Linked DNA regions of Homo sapiens: region 1 is linked to region 2. Evidence: fine-mapped expression QTL. Tissue or cell type: Th17 cells. Region 2 holds a variant in brackets; the other region holds the start of a gene. All regions are shown on one strand. Distances are between the middles of the regions.

The links. PIP is the estimated chance that this variant, and not a neighbour inherited with it, causes the effect.
Region 1: it holds the start of ERP27, and the variant in region 2 is fine-mapped to the expression of ERP27 in Th17 cells (Schmiedel 2018, PIP 0.95).

Annotation. Positions count from the first base shown.
Region 1 is chr12:14,933,939-14,942,319 of GRCh38, forward strand. It overlaps ERP27 (endoplasmic reticulum protein 27), which reads right to left and starts at 4,599. Exons shown (of 7, transcript NM_152321.4): 1 at 4,477-4,599; 2 at 4,014-4,114; 3 at 918-1,055. The coding sequence starts at 4,570. ARHGDIB (Rho GDP dissociation inhibitor beta) reads right to left here. Exons shown (of 6, transcript NM_001175.7): 6 at 8,093-8,381. RefSeq lists an enhancer at 4,055-4,114.
Region 2 is chr12:15,151,740-15,160,120 of GRCh38, forward strand. The region is part of intron 2 of RERG (RAS like estrogen regulated growth inhibitor); the gene reads right to left. It overlaps RERG-AS1 (RERG antisense RNA 1), which reads left to right and starts at 184. Exons shown (of 3, transcript NR_046559.1): 1 at 184-331; 2 at 2,501-2,601; 3 at 3,457-3,544. The variant AAT/A (reference allele first, on the strand shown) is at 4,262.

The DNA.
Region 1 (8,381 bases), 220 kb before region 2:
CCTCCACCTTGCTGTCAAAATAATCTAATAAAACACATTTCTGTTCATGTTACTCCCCTGATGTAAAGGCTTTAGGGGCTTTCCAGTAACAGCCAAATTCAGGACAAACTCATTAAAGTGGTATTCTACTTTTTCCCCACAATACGATTTTAATCAAGTTTCTTTCTCTTATATTCATTTTCCCCAATGTGTACCCTGGGATCCAGTGAGATTGGCCTGTTTATTGTTTCCTGAGTTTTTTCCCGTTGGCCATGAATTCTTTAGCTTGTCTAAACTTATCTATCCTTCAAGTTTCAATTCTGTTGTCTTTTTCTTTTCTTTTTTTTCAGAATTCCCACACTGTTTCTATCCTTTGAACTGTGATAAAACTTTACCCATAGTGATTCTCTTTTTATTATAGATACTTGCATATTATATATACAATACCTACCATACTTAAAGATCTATGAGACTGGAGAATATATTTAATATGTTTTTATTATCGGTATCTTGCATAGGGCATACAGGAAGTATTTAATAAATGTTTGAAGAACATAAATGAACTCCTCAAAATATTTAATATAAAAATTTTGGAGCTCAAAGTGACCTTAGAGATAATACAGTCTAACTCTTTTATTTTATAAAGGAAAGAATTGGAGATAAAAAATGTTAAGTGACTGCCCAAAGTCATGTGGCTGTTGAGCGACAAAGCAGTACCACAAATTCCATTCCCTGGCTTTCAGTCCTGTCCTCTTTCCATTTCATTACAGTACCTGTTTGGGAAGCTTGAATTGAGTCATCATCCTTGTCAACAATGTCCCTGAATTTGGTACCATCATTAGTGTAAAAGACATAGAGTCCTTTCCAGTCTCACAAGTTTATGAGTCCACAACCCAGTGAAAATCTGGGAGAAAGCTCAAGCTACCCACCCAACTTACCAGGCGAAAGAGGCAGATGGTGTTCCCAGTGATGTTGTAGTGTGTCAGAACCTCAGAATCAGTGCTGATCCCAAATGACACGCCTGGGAATTTTTGCACCATGCTATGGAGTATGGGCACTGCTGGTATTTCTAAATCCTAAAAACAAGAGAAAAAATAATACCACAGTGGTTATTTCGAAGGGCAGAGACAAACGATAGGCAAAAGAAATATGATATGATGTTTACCAGAAATCATAGATTTGATTTACTGCCCAGTAACACATGATTTACCCCTAACAATTCAGGTTTAACTGGCAGTGACATTCTTGAATTTTCCAGGCTCTGTAAGTTAATAGGTAACCACGAAATTGTAGCTGAGCCTGAGACTCCTGTCAGGCCTTGTCATAGAGCTTGAAGTTTACTAGGGGCTGAGAGAGGCCTCAAAATCATAAAGGCCTGCCTAGTTTGGCTGCACTGTTGTAGATACACATGAGAAGCAACTCTTCTGGGAACAATTTGTTTAACGGTGAAATAGCAAACAAACTAACATAACCAACTCTATTTTTGTTTAAAGGGCATTTATTTACTCATTCCTGCATGTAGGTTAGAATAATTTTAGAGCACTGAGATAATAGGCAAAAATAGGAGTTATATAGTTTTTAAAACTAACTCTGGGATTAAAGGAAAAGTATGTAAACAACTAACTATGTAGTGCTACAGATTTATAGGTGCCTTGTGACCTGACCAAGGACAAAGAAGTTCCCAACTTCCTGAGACACTTGCTGGGGCCCAGATGCCTGTGGTTGCCGGTTATCACTTGATCCCAACTCCCTCCTCTTCACCCTGCCCTTAACATACAAAGAACCTAAAATTGGTAGTGGCTTAAGATGTACTTTGTTTATTTATTTTGACACAGAGTCTTGCTCTGTCACCCAGGCTAGAGTGCAGTGGCAAAATTTTGGGTCACTGCAACCTCTGCCTCACGGATACTTGTGCCACAGCCTCCTGAGTAGCTGGGACTACAGGTGTTCACCACCATACTTGGCTAATTTTTTCTGTATTTTTAGTAGAGATGTGGTTTTGCCATGTTGCCCAGGCCAGCCTTGAACTCCTGAGCTCAGGCAATCCACCTCCCTCAGGCTCCCAAAGTGCTAGAATTACAGGTGTGAGTCACTGTGCCCGGCCAAGATGTACTTTAGGATGCTAGTCCGCTGTCTTCTTGGTTTACTGGATCTTCAAATAAACTGGCTTTTCCTCCCACCGGCTCTTCCTCTTGAGTTTTGGCTTTGGTTACATTTGTGGATGAAAGGAAAAAATGCAAAAATATGAAATAGACGCCATCAAAAGGGCCAAAAAAGAAAAAAAGAAGAAAAATAAAACAATTAAAATGAAAGCTTAGAAGTTTTAACAAAAGTTTATGCAGGTTATGGAAGGACAGTCCCTCTCTTGCCACTGTAGATAAACCTGAGCTTTGCACATGAAGATGCTGTTCACGCATTCAACTCTGCAGCCCAGGCCTGCAGGAGGCAGCAGAGAAGCCACTTGCGAACAGTGATTCCAGGCCTTCCATAGACGCTGGCATCATTTTCCCTGCTCTCACGGGACCTTTATCCATAGCAGCTCCAGGAAATTAACAGGAACAAACATGTTCTACCCTGCAAGTCCCCAGGCTGAAGGAGGAGATGTGCAAGGAGAAAAGAAGATGGCCAGTTGATATGGTTTGGCTGTGTCCTTACCTAAAATCTCATCTTTAAATGTAATCCCCATAATCCCCACATGTCAAGGGTGGGACCAGGTGGCAGTAATGGGATCATGGGGGCAGTTTCCCCCATGCTGTTCTCGTGATAGTGCATGAGTCACAAGATCTGATGGTTTTTTAAGCGTCTGGCATTCCCCTGCTTGTGCTCATTCTCTCTCCTGCCATCCTGTGAAGAGGTTCCTTCTGCCATGATTGTAAATTTCCTCAGGCCTTCCAAGCTATGCTGAACTGTGATTCAATTAAAACTCTTTCCTTTATAAATTATCCAGTTTTGGGTATGTCTTTATTGGCAGCATGAGAAGAAACTAACATACCCGTCTTGCATCTGGGGTCAAGCAGAGGGAGCTGGTATCTACTCTTCTAGAGGCCATGAACAATAATTAATTGAGGCCTCCTCTCTTATTCTGCTCCTTCAGATGGAATTGCTGGAGGATAAAATGATGGCATCTGGCGGCTGTTTAAGTTATTGCACACTCCTCCAATTCCATGCTCTTGCCCCTTCCCCATCTTTCTGACGGTGTTTTTGTCTACAGCTCAGATTTCTCATTCCTGAAAAATGTTGTCCCTGTCTTTCTCCCTGACTTGCATCTCATTGCAGTGATTTCCAACTGTGTACGCAGAACTGACAGGGTAATCAGGAGTTGTAACTGAGAAATGGAAACAGACAAGAAGGTCTGCTATGAGAGAGTAGGGGCTTGATCAGCTGTGAGGATTTCCAGATGCTACCACCAGAGAAAGATGAAAATGCTGGAATGAGGCAGTCTCATTTATGGCTGCCTTTCTTAGTCAAGAAGCTAATCTGGAAGATGGAGGTTAACACCTTGAATATACAAAATGCCATCATTTTCCAACATTTCAGACAAGGCAAAGAGAAAGAAGGAGAGTCTACCATATTTGGGGGAAAGGCTTTAAAAGGCTGTGCACTGACTAATGTCCAGGATGTTTGGCATCCTGTAAACAGTGTTGCTGGATGATATAAATTGGGTTCACTCTGGCCCCTGCCTATTCATAGGGTGCTATGAGAGTATAGACCAAATGTGTTTAGGACAATGGTGGGGTTCCATGAAGGCATTCTTTCTGCAGATACTGACTTGAGCTTCAAAGCATCCATAGATGAGGAGATGCAGCCCACAGGCTCAGAACTCTTGAAGTAAGTATGAGAAAGATATAATTTAGAGACTGGGAATGTCTTGAAAATAAGAGGTCCCAATGGACAAGATGAAATCAAACTGGGTGGCTGTCTCCCTTTACCCCCACTTCTAATGCAGTGCCATCTGCCAGCAGCAGGTGGCTGCTGTGGTTCCCTTAAGGTAGAACATTTCTGGCTCTTGGGGGAATTGCAAGTAGGGAACTAACCTGGAAGAAGCCTATGACAGCCACCTCAGTGGCAGCAATGAATTCCATGGCAGCTGGGACATCTGTGAGCCACGTGGGTTCCTGGGCAGCACCAGGACCATCTAGAGAGAGAAGCAGAAGATGTCAGGGTACTGAGGCAAGAAGAAGCAGCTCTAAATAATGAGGGCATCTATACCTTTTATCTCTATACTAAGGGCAAGAAGAGCACAATTTATAGGAGTACTGTTGGCATTCCAAGGCATAATATTTTTACTAACATATGGAAGGTGACCCTACTGATGGTCTGTCTCTGAAGGATACTGCCAGACTTCCCTACTCTCTACCAGGCAAAATGCACTTATCCAGGATTTCCTGGAAAGCTTTCTAGGTGTGGAGGAAAAGTACCCAGAGAACCACCATGCTCCCTTTCCTTCTCCTAATAACACTTTCACACTATAGCCACCCAACTACATTTTTCTTTTACCTGAGGATTTCTCAACTTCTGCAGCAACTTCTGCAGCCAGCTCACACGTGAGGAGAAATAAGAGGAACATGAACCTGGACGGGGCAGCTTCCATTGTCCCTCTCCTGCTCCTGCTCCAACCCTGGACTTTGTGTTGGGGAGGCCGACTCAGGGCAGCCTACTCTGTAGCTGATTGGCTGTGGGGTTGTTAGGGCTTTGGGAACTTTGCAGCTGGCTCCAGGGGAGCCTTCAACTTCTGAGATAAAAGACCAAGGTTAGTAATAGGGACTCAGAACATATCCAACCAGAAGAAAGTCAGGTCAGTTTATTTAAATAAAAAATGTAAATATGCTATGCCAGGCATTGATCCTAGCGCTAAGAATAGAAAGATAATTATGATCTGATCCAGCCTCTGCCAGCTTAGATTATCAGTGGGAGAGATGGGCAAGTAAAAAGATTATTTAAATATAAGATGGAAAGTGATATAGAAAAATTCATAGGGTGCTATGACAATACATATTAAGGGTATTAGGGACAATGCTAGGGTTCAATGAAAGTGTTCTTCCTGCGGAGGATGCCGGAGCAGAGTTCTGGGTAAGTAAGATTTTGCCAGGCAACACAAGGTAGAAAGGGAGTTTCATGTAAAGAACTAAAGCACAGGCCGGGCGTGGTGGCTCATACCTGTAATCCCAGAACTTTGGGAGGCTGAGGCAGGTGGATCACGAGGTCAGGAGATTGAGACCATCCTGGCTAACATGGTGAAACCCCATCTCTACTAAAAATACAAAAAATTAGCCAGGTGTGGTGGCGGGCGCCTGTAGTCCCAGCTACTCGGGAGGCTGAGGCAGGAGGATGGCCTGAACCCGGGAGGCAGAGCTTGCAGTGAGCCGAAATAGCACCACTGCACTCCAGCCTGGGCGACAGAGCGAGACTCCGTCTCAAAAAAAAAAAAAAAAAAAAAAAAGAACCAAAGCACAGATATGCAAATATAATGTGTGACAGAATTACTAGTAATTGAGAATGATGAAAAGGAAGGAAGTGATACATGTGGACAGAAAGGCATGTTGGGACCAGCTCACAGCAGGCTTTATATGATACACTAAGCGCGGGAGCATCAATTTTATTCTGTAGGTGATGGGAACCACTGAAAAGTCTTAAGCAGAAGAATGAGATGAAGTTTGATTTTGCTCACAAGTGTCTGAGGAAGTCCAAGATGAGATTTCCACAGGCATTGGGATATGTAGTTTTAAGCTTAGGAGAATTTTCATGTGAAAATATTACAAAAGAAATTAGGAAGCCCTAGCCAGGGCAATTAGGCAAGAGGAAGACATAAAAGGCATCTAAACAGGAAAAGAAAAAGTCAAACTATTTCTCCTTGTTGACAATATGATTGTATGCCTAGAAAGCTCTGAAGACTCTGCCAAAAGGCTACTGGAACTGATGAATGATTTCAGTAAGGTATCAGGAAAAAAATAAGTGTACAAAAATTAGTGGCATTTCTATACAGCAATAATGTCCAGGCTGAGAGTAAAATCAAGAACACAATTTCATTTACAATAGCTACAAATAAAATGAAATGCCTAGGAATACAGATAACCAAGGAGGTAAAATATCTCTACAAGGAGAAATACAAAACACTTTTGAAAGAAATCAGAGGTGACACAAATGAAAAAACACTCCATGCTCATGGGTAGGAAGAATCAGTATCTTCAAAATGGCCATACTGCCCAAAGAAATTAACAGATTCAGTGCTATTCCTATCTAACTACCAACGTCATTCTTCACAGAATTAGAAAAGAAACTATTCTAAAATTTATATGGAACCAAAAAAGAGTCTGACTAGCTAAAGCAATCCTAATCAAAAAGAACAAAAACAGAGGCGTCACATTACCCAACTTCAAACTATACTACAAGGCTACAGTAACCAAAATAGCATGGTACTGGTACAAAAGCAAACACATAGACCAATGGAACAGAATAGAGAACCCAGAAATAAAGTCATATACCTACAACCATCTGATCTTCGACAAAGTTAACAAAACCAATCAATGGGGAAAGGATTCCCTACTCAATAAATGGTGCTGTGATAGCTGGCTAGCCATATGCAGAAGAATGAAACTGCACCCTCATCTTTCACCATATAAAAAGTTAACTCAAGATGAATTAAAGATTTAAGACCTCAAACCATAAAAGTCCTAGAAGAAAACCTAGGAAATACTCTTTTTGACATTAATCTTGACAAGTAATTTTTGGCTAAGTCCTCAAAAGCAATTGCAACAAAAACAAAAATTGACAAGTGGGACCTAATTAAAGAGGTTCTTCAGAGCAAAAGGAACTATTGATAGACAATCTACAAAATGGGAGAAAGCATATGCAAACTATGCATCCAACAAAGGTCTAATATTCAGAATCCATAAGAAACTTAAACAAATCAAGAAGCAAAAAACAAATAACCCCAATAGAAAATGGGCAAAGAGCATAAACAGATACTTCTGAAAAGAAGACACACAAGAGGCCAATAAGCCTACAAAAAATGCTCAACGTTACTAATTATCAGAGAAATGCAAATCAAAGCCAAAATGAGATACAATCTCACACTAGTCAGAATGGCCATTATTAAAAAATCAAAAAACAACAGACACTGTGAGACTGCAGAGAAAAGGGAATGCTTATACATTATTCATGGGGATGTAGCTTAAGCAGTTACGTAGTTCAGCCACTGTGGAAAGCAACTCTAAGTAATGAGGACATCTATACCTTTTATCTCTACAGTAAGGCCAAGGAGAGTACTCCAATTTTTAGGAGTAACGTTAGCATTCCAAGGCATAATATTTTTACGAACGTATGGAGAGTGACCAGTTTGAAGATTTCTCAAAAAACTTGAAACAGAGCTACCATTTGATTCAGCAACCCCATTACTATGTATATATCCAAAGGAAAGTAGATTGTTGTACCAAACAGACATGCACATGTATGTTCATTGTTGTGCCATTCACAATAGCAAAGACACGGAATTAATGTAGTTGCCCATTAATGGTGGATTGGATAAAATATGTGGTGCATATATACCATGATATACTATATGGTCATAATAAAAAAGTAAAATCATGTCCTTTGCAGCAATATGGATGAAGCTGGAGGCCATAATCCTAAGCAAAGCAATGCAGAAACAGAAAACCAACTTCCATATGTTCTCAGTTATAAGTGGGAGCTAAACACTGAACACACATAGACATGAACATAGAAACAGTAGACACTGTGGACTACCTGAGGGGTAAGGGAGGGAGTGGGGCATTTTTTGAAAAACTATCTATTTAGTACTAGGCTCACTACCTGGATGCAATATACCCATGTAACGAACCTGCACATGTACCCTCTATACCTAATATAAAAGTCGAAATTAAAAATAGCTAACTAAATAAGTAAAATGTAGATTTCCCACTGGCTGTATTCTGAATGTGCATTGCCTATTATAGTGTAATAGGGGACCAATTTGTTCCCAAAGATGTAAATATCTCCTCCAGTGTGTTTTCCTCATCCCCATCCCCTCTGAGGGAACTCATGAATGTGAACCATCCAGTTATCATATTTGTTCAAAGCAAGAAAGCAGGGAAATGAAGGTCTCAGCCAGAACACACACAGTTATTGTTTTATTCTTGTTCTCTTGTGTCGTTTACAGTGTCTCTCACAAAAGAAGAACTCCCTCTGGCAGGGGATGTGACTAGGGACTCATTGGGCCAGCAACAACCACAAAAGAATCTAGGCATTAGAATGAACTACTGGAACCTGAGTCAAAGACCTGTTAGTGATAATTTGCCCATTTTCTGGCCTCTAGTTGCTTGAATAGGGGTAAGACAGGGAAATATTAAATGATTGTGTACTGAGATGGAGACGTGGAAGATCTGGCCCTGATGGAGGATCAGAGG
Region 2 (8,381 bases):
AACTCTAAGCAAAGAGAACTAATATGGTTAGGTTAACAGAATTCCACTTTTATTATGCTTCCTTTTCCTTTATAAATCAGGTCAGTCTTTTCCTCCTGATGAAGGAATTCATGAACTGCATGCTACCCTTACTGTTATGACTTCTAAAACTGCTGCAACCATTTGATTGGAAAAGTATTTTACAATAAATGCTGCGTTCCATGTGCTAAGTACTGAAGTTATTACCATGACAACAAGACCACCTTCTTGCCTACAGTTCGGAGATTAATAAAGGGCTCCTGAGATAACCACAAGGCACATGAAATAACCCAGGAACTATAAATTGCAAAAGGTAAATGCTGTTTTGTTTTGCACTTAAAGTACCATTGCTGTTCAGTGAAGGGAATATTGCCCACAGATGTTTTGGAAAGCCATCTGAGGAAGGCACAGAAGGTTGTACAAATAGAATAGGCAGAAAGGAAAGCAGAACACAGCATTAGCAAAGTCATAGGAGTCAAAATTTCATTGCTAAGGAAAACTAGTGCTTTTCATTTCATATTTCTGGCTGTCCTACTGACTTGGAATGCTTCAAATGCACCAATTCACCTGCCTTAGATATGGACTGATACTTCAGTCCCATCTGCTGTAATAGGTGAGCTTTTCATATTTTCTGAAGCTATTATCCATAGTGTTTCCCCTCTAATTTCAAAAGCCTAGAGAGAAACAATATGGAAAAAACTCTTGTTTTGGACAGAGAAGGCTCTGAAGCAAGCCACCTCCTAGAGATGGAGAGCTTCATTTTGTCCTGCCTGAGCCAAGATAGGACACAGTAGGAGTTTGCTGCAAGAACACAGAACACATCAGGTTTTCATGTAGCAGTGCCCTAAGAAGGAAACTGGACAAGGATAACTTGAATTGAGGAAACCAGTCCAGCTGGAGCACCACCCTGTGGTTTCGCATGGACTAGGAATAGAAATTTGCTCTGAAGAAATGTATTTTTAAAAGTTAACCTTCACATGGTATTTGAAGTTTCATAGAACTTTTTTGGATTGGAACCAGATCTAGCATGCATGTTCTTAGGTATTAAAGCCTAATATTATTATATTACTCTTTGAAAAAAATGAATTCTTTCATCATAGTAATTTTCTTAAAATATAACACTGCTTTTTACTTATATTAAATTCTCTACTGTTTCTGATGTTATGCTACTTAGGAAAATGCCATTTTCTTGTTAAATTAATATGTGCAGACAAGTATTTACTTACCACACATGAACATGAGCCCCTTATAAGTCATCACTCCTAATATTTATGGTCTAAGAATGAGGTAGTTCGGGTGAGTCACATATTTACACTTAGCAGAGAGATTAAGAAAAAAATTCGCACCACAATTTCCCTTAAGTAATGGAAAAAATGTGACTTGTTACACATTTGTTTTCTGGGTCAGTGTTTTTCCAGCTTTTCCATAGAGTCTTAAGGTCATCCAAGGTTTCTTTAGGTTTTCCTAAAAGAAAGAACTGGGGAGTTGTGATGGGTGCTTGATTTTAAATGTGATAACAATTATCTGCGACTTTTAGAGAACACAGCTAACCATTGTGAAGATTACTGTTCTGGATAGTGAAAAATATGAACCAGCAGTATAGGCTTTGAATGTTTGAAATTGATGATCTTAAATTTCTTAAATAACAGGGCCCTAGACATGCACTTTGCTCACAAAAGAGATCTTTTACCCCAGTCTTTAGAAATTTGCTTAAAGTGGGAGAGTCTAGTATTTATAAATAAAAGGAAAGCAGTAAGATTCAGAAAAATACCATTGAGATTTATAAGGAACTAGAGAACCATAGTTCCTGGAAAATCCAGGAGTAATTGAATAGCTTTTATAATATAAAGAAAAAGAATATTCACGGTGCATTACTTTTGGCAGCCTATCATCTAAATATGGCACCCAGAATAAATGCATTGACTGAAGGGAAATTGTATGATTTGCATAAATTTTACCAATGGCTATAAATTATCCTCTCTGGTGATTTTTCAAGATAGATAGTGTTATGGGTTGAATTGTGTCCCCTCAAAGGACACTGAAGTCCTAATCTTAGTATCTGTGAATGTGACCTTATTTAAAAATAAGATCTTTGTTGATGATCAAGCTAAGATGATTTCATTGGAGTAAGCCCTAAGTGATTAAATATGACTATGTTCTTATGAAATGGGGAAATTTGGACACAGAGACAGACACACACAGAGAGATGATATGGAAACATAAGGAGAACACCATCTGCAAGCCAAGGACGGCCTGAGGTTACCAGAAGCTAGGACAGAGGCAGGGAACAGATCCTCCCTTACAGACTTTGGAAGGAACCAATCCTTCTGACGCCTTGATTTTGGAGTTCTAGCCTCCAGAAGCATGAGGCAGTAAATTTCTGTTGTTTAAGCCCCCCAGCTTGTGGTACTTTGTTGAGGCAGTGCTAGCAAACTAGTACAGTTATATATTCTGAATCCTTGTCTTTTGGCTTGCCATTTAGCCCCCGAGTCTCCCTGGCAATCAATAAAGCACAGAAGCTTTGTTCAGATTGCCAACCACCCGGTTCAGTTCTGGACAACCTCATACTGCCATCCACGTAAGGCAAGTTCCTTTTAAAGTTTGCCAGACCAAAGCAATTAAGAGGGCAAATCTGTTGGAAAAACTCACATATTGCATTATGAAGCCAAATATAAATTCTACTTTGATTATTGTTCCTTATGAAGGAGAGCAGTGTCTCTAATAATCAGAAAAGAATCAGGGATTGATTGTATTTCATTTTCTTCGAGGAAAATTTGGCCAAATAGCTAAAGTAACCTGATTAATGAGAAATTTGCAGAATGGGAAAAACACTGCAATTATAGGCAGCAACCATGGACATCCGCTGATGGCCAAAGAACATAGCCAGTCTTCTGGTGCGTACATTATGTGGCAGCTCGTTGGTCTCCTGCCAAATAGGACAATCAATGTAGGTTGAAATTTGTCTCAATCTCACTCGGCAATCATATTCATAAACACTGCCTCTGTGTCTTATTTAGGTGAGACAGCAACTTAAAGACTATTATGTAAACAGAATTTTCATACCTAGAATTTTAAAAATGTATTAAACTTTAAAAGGGTCTTTCCTAATATTTGATGGAGGAGCTTCAGAATAGTTAATTTAAATGAAATTGTAGTATTATATATTTTCATTTTTTAAAATGTTAAGTTGCTAAGTGTGAAGGCTTTAGACACTGACACCTCATATTGATTCTTGCTTTACAAAGAGACTTGGAAAAGAAACCAGTGTATGTATAAAATGATTAATTGGGATAAGAAACTCAGCTAAGAGATATTCAGACTGGAAAAAACTAAATAAAGAATATAAAACAAGCAATTAAAAAAAGGAAAAAGCAGGCATGGTGTTGAAGTATATGAAGTAATCTAACACCACTGTGTTTTTTCATCTTCATTTTCCAGTGTCTATGCTGCATTGTAACTTTTGGAAAAACATGCACACACCTGGTGCCACCTGGGTAGGTGTGACCAGAACCTGCCTGTTGGAAAATAAAGGATTAAAAAAATGAAATGAGAGAAAGTGACACATAAAAGGACAACTTAAGGTTTCCGCAAAGCAAATACATAACCAAGCTGATCAACCCTCCAGCATAGTCCTTCTGAGCTGTGTTTCCACAGGAAAATGAGGGTAGAGGCAATCACAAAAGTCTTGGCTCTCATCCACCCCTGTGGCCTGCTGACACAGGCCCAGCTTGCCAGAGCACTGGGGTCACAATGAAGTTGCTGCCAGTAGAGCTGCTTTCATTAAAATTGAGTAAGAAGAACAGGTAATGGGGTTGGGCAGAAACTAGGACCTGAAAGTGGTTGGGATTGGGGGACTCCTGTCTTCTAATTGGGAAGGCTGGGTAGGGCTTCTTGGTAGTACCTGACAATTATCTTGTTCTAGCATTTACAGCCTTTCTCTACTCCTGGAGTCACTGCAGGGCCCCCAGGGGACTCTGAAAACAGCCAGTTGTTAAGCAAGGGTATTCTCCACTAGGGCTACCATGAAGTTTATATTATAGAGCTGGATCTTTCACCCCTTTTGTGCTGTAAACCATTTGTGCACAGCCTTTGAACTATTTCTCATAATAATACTTTTTAAATATATATAAAATATATGTCATTACAAATAAAATCAACTATGATGAAATATGGCACATGTATACATATGTAACTAACCTGCACAAAGTGCACATGTACCCTAAAACTTAAAGTATAATAAAAA[AAT/A]ATATATATATATTTATAAATATTGATATACTGTTAGAAAAACATTTTTTAAAATAAATAGGTGATATAGTAATTACATTCTTTATTAATATGTTCAATATAATCTGGTCTTGAGCTTATTAATTATGATTTCACATTAATGATGACGAAAAATAACATTTTGAGATATCAGCAACAACTGATACGAATGGAAATATCCATCATTTCTATTAGGGACAAAGTCACAGGTATTGCTAACACTGTGATTTGTTTCTACATTCATCATGGAAGGCAGTGCCAAATGTCATTTAAGGGTGCATGAAAATGTAGATGAAATGTTTTCCCATACAAGTTCACAGACCCCCTGAAATCTACCTGTGGACCCTTTGCTGGATCTGGAGTTCAGGTTAAGAACCCTGCCATACAGGCTTACCCATCCTAATACGGAAGTTTACCACAAATACCACATCAGCTTTCATGCAATTGTATGATAATTACCAACTTTTAAAACAGTGTCACTTTAATCTCTATCTCTCTGATGATTCAGAAATCACTTCAAAATTTTCACAAGAAGTAACATTGTGAGTATCAAAAAATTTGCCCTGTAGACTTGGGGAATGCTTGTTAATGAAATTACTAGGTTCAGAAAATCTCTAATAGTTGTTAGTATTTTCTTTCTAAACAAGAATGTGCAACAAATGATGCAAGAGCAGAATGGTATTATCATTGCTTTGCGAGTCCTCAGGAGAAAGAAATAGAGTGATCAATATGATCAATAAAACAAGGCAGTTTAAGCTTAAGTCAGACCCTGAAGTCAGGCGCATTTTCGTGCAAATCTCAACCCTACTACTCACATTTGACAAGTTATTTACTTCTCTAAACCTCTAAGCCTGTATCTGAGCTACAAAATAGGGATAAAAATAGTGCCTATCTCATAGAGATATTGAGGGGATTAAACGAGGTAATACATGATAACATACTAACTCAGGCTCTGTTGTTAGAGGATCCATTGCCCCTCTTGCAAAATGGGAAAATGGAAACCATCTTCAAGTCTGTCAGACATCTCTAAGCCTGTCTTTTCTTCCAGCCTCTTTTCTTGGAGTTGCTCTACATTTTCCACTGTAGTGGATGGCCTCCGTTTTTCATTCGGCATTGCAGGAATTTTGAAGAATACACAGTTTTTGAAAAGAGACAGACAGTTCAAGAAGACAGGGGAAAACAGAAGAGGCCACTTATTTTGCATATAAGACAGATGCTCAGGGCATACCAGAATAGCTTAGAATTATTTGTAATCAGCAGATATGAGTGTAGGTCTGGTATCAGCTTTAAAATGTTTTGTAATGTTGAGAAATATTTTACAATCCATCCACCCCCAGTTTTCCTATGACAAAATGTCAAGAGGGACGTGCAAGAAGCTTGAGAACCAGCAAGTAATTTTTCATATGAATTCCCACTAGTTGGGACTGACTTGAAGGATGTAATTTATGGCCATTCTTGGGAAACAACCATGAAAATGTAGTGCTAAAGCTTGTCAGCTGCTTCCTGTCCCCTAAAGTGGTAGAGATAACTTACCAGAGTGTCCCATTTTCACTCTTTTTGGTTCCCACATTATACTTACAAACAAATAAAAACAATACAAACATGAAAGAGAACTCCAACTTCAAAGCACGCAAAGATAACTGATGACTAGGAAATAAGAGCTTTGGCTGCTTATTTGAATAAGCCAGGCTTTTCTTTTTCATCACAGTACAATGTAAATGACTGCCTTTACTGATGAGAAAATTTTGCTTTTCAACATTTTTTTGTCACTCTTTTGTATATATTTTCAAACTTAGAAAAAAGCTATGAGAAAAGATTACATAACTCTCATATTCTGTTTATCCAGATCCACAAACTGTTTACATTTTTCCCATTTGTTTTATCATTCACTCTCCCTTCTCTCTATACATAAATATTTATGTATAAATAAATATATATACACACATTCATATTTTTCTGTACCTGAGAATAAGTTGGAAACATTTTGCCTCCTTACATTTAAGTGTTTCAATATCTATACTTCATAATAAATACATTTTGTAGGATAACAAAAGTATAATTATCAATATCAGAAAATTTAACATGATGCAATGACATTATCTAATCCACAGTCTATATTTGAATTTCTTCAATTGTCCCAATCATGCCCTTTCTAGTTACTTTCCTCTCCTTGGTCCAGAATCTAATCTAGGACTGAACATAGCATTTAGTTGTTATAACTCTTTACACTCTTTTAAATTGGAACAGTTCCTCAGTTTTTTTGTTTTTTTGTTTTTTTTTAGATAGAATCTCGCTCTGTCATCCAGGCTGGAACACAGTGTTATGATCTTGGCTCGCTGCAGCCTCGACCTCCTGGGCTCATGTGATCTTCCCACTTCAGCTTCCCAAGTAGCTAGGATTACAGGCACACATCACCACACCTGGCTAATTTTTGCATTTTTTTAAGAGATGGGGTCTCACTGTGTTGCCCAGGCTGGGATCAAACTCCTGGGCTCAAGCGATCCACCTACCTCGGCCTCCCAAAGTGCTGGGATTACAAGTGTGAACCATTGTGCCTGGCCTCTCAGCATTTTTTAATGATATTTCATCTTTGACATTTTTGCAGAGTATAAGGAATTTTGAAGAGTACACAGTTTTTCAAGAGAGATAGACTAAAATGTCCCTCAGTTGTCTAATACTTCCTCATAATTAGATTCGGATTAGGTATTTTGGGGCAGAAATGCTACAGAACGATGTGTGTCCTTCTTAGTGCTTCATATCAGGAGGCATATGTTGTTGGTTCATGTCCCATCATTGGTGACATGAACTTTATTTTATTAAGGTGGCATTATTTTATTTTATTTTATTAAGGTGGCATTTTTTTAGAATTTTCCAATGTAAAGTTATTATTTTTCTATCTGACAATTAATGAGCAATTTGTGGAAGATATTCTGAAACTATGTAAATATCCTGATCCTCACCACACTTTCACTCATTAGTTTCAGCCTCCACTGGTGACTCCTGCCTGAATCAATTATTTTGATAATTTCCGAATGATAGTTTTCTAACTTGTCATTTCTTCTACATTTATTGGTTGATATTCTATTGTAAGAAAGAACTTGTCTTTCTCCCTGTTGATTTTTTTATACACTTACTGTTTATATCAACAGGGAACCATGTATTCTTTTTTTGTTCAATGGATTGTAATCCATTACTGACATTACTTTGTCTCAGAAGTCACCAGGGAGAGTCCTTTCAAGCTGGTTCTTGTGTCCTCTTGATAGGTCCCTACCATTTGTGGCCTACAACCACAATAGTAGTTCATGCTTTTGCATAATTTGCTGCCTTACTAGTACAGAAATACCTTTTTCGTTCTCACATAAAGATAATTATTTACTTTTACAGAAGGGAGAATTATTATTGATTTAACTATATATTTTAAACATTGTATTTGGCCTCTCAGGATTTTTAGTTTTCAAATAAAAGTTATTGATTTGGACATATTTATATCTATTGATACAATTTAAAAAATCTTAATGGAGGGCTGGGCACGGTGGCTCACGCCTGTAATCCCAGCACTTTGGGAGGCCGAGGCAGGCAGATCACGAGGTCAGGAGATCGAGACCATCCTGGCTAACACAGTGAAACCCCGTCTCTACTAAAAATACCAAAAACTTAGCTGGGCGTGGTGGCGGGCGCCTGTAGTGCCAGCTGCTTGTGAGGCTGAGGCAGGAGAATGGTGTGAACCCGGGAGGCGTAGCTTGCAGTGAGCCGAGATTGTGCCACTGCACTCCAGCCTGGGCGACAGAGCAGGACTCCGTCTCAAACAAACAAACAAAAAAATCTTAATGGAAACAAAACAACAACAAAAAATCCCAACCAAATTTATCTTCCAAACAATGGAAAAGGGTGAGATTTAATGCATCTTGGCCTAAGACAATTAAGAAAATTTTGATATTCCATAGTTGATATAAGAAGGAAGAAAGCAGTAGAGATTATCATACATTTTGGAAAATAGAGGGAAAAATGAACACGAATATTTAGTATCTATAACAAATTTCTACTTGTATAAAACAGCAAATCTGTTTCATTATAATGGCTAAGTACAGTTCTCCACAGTT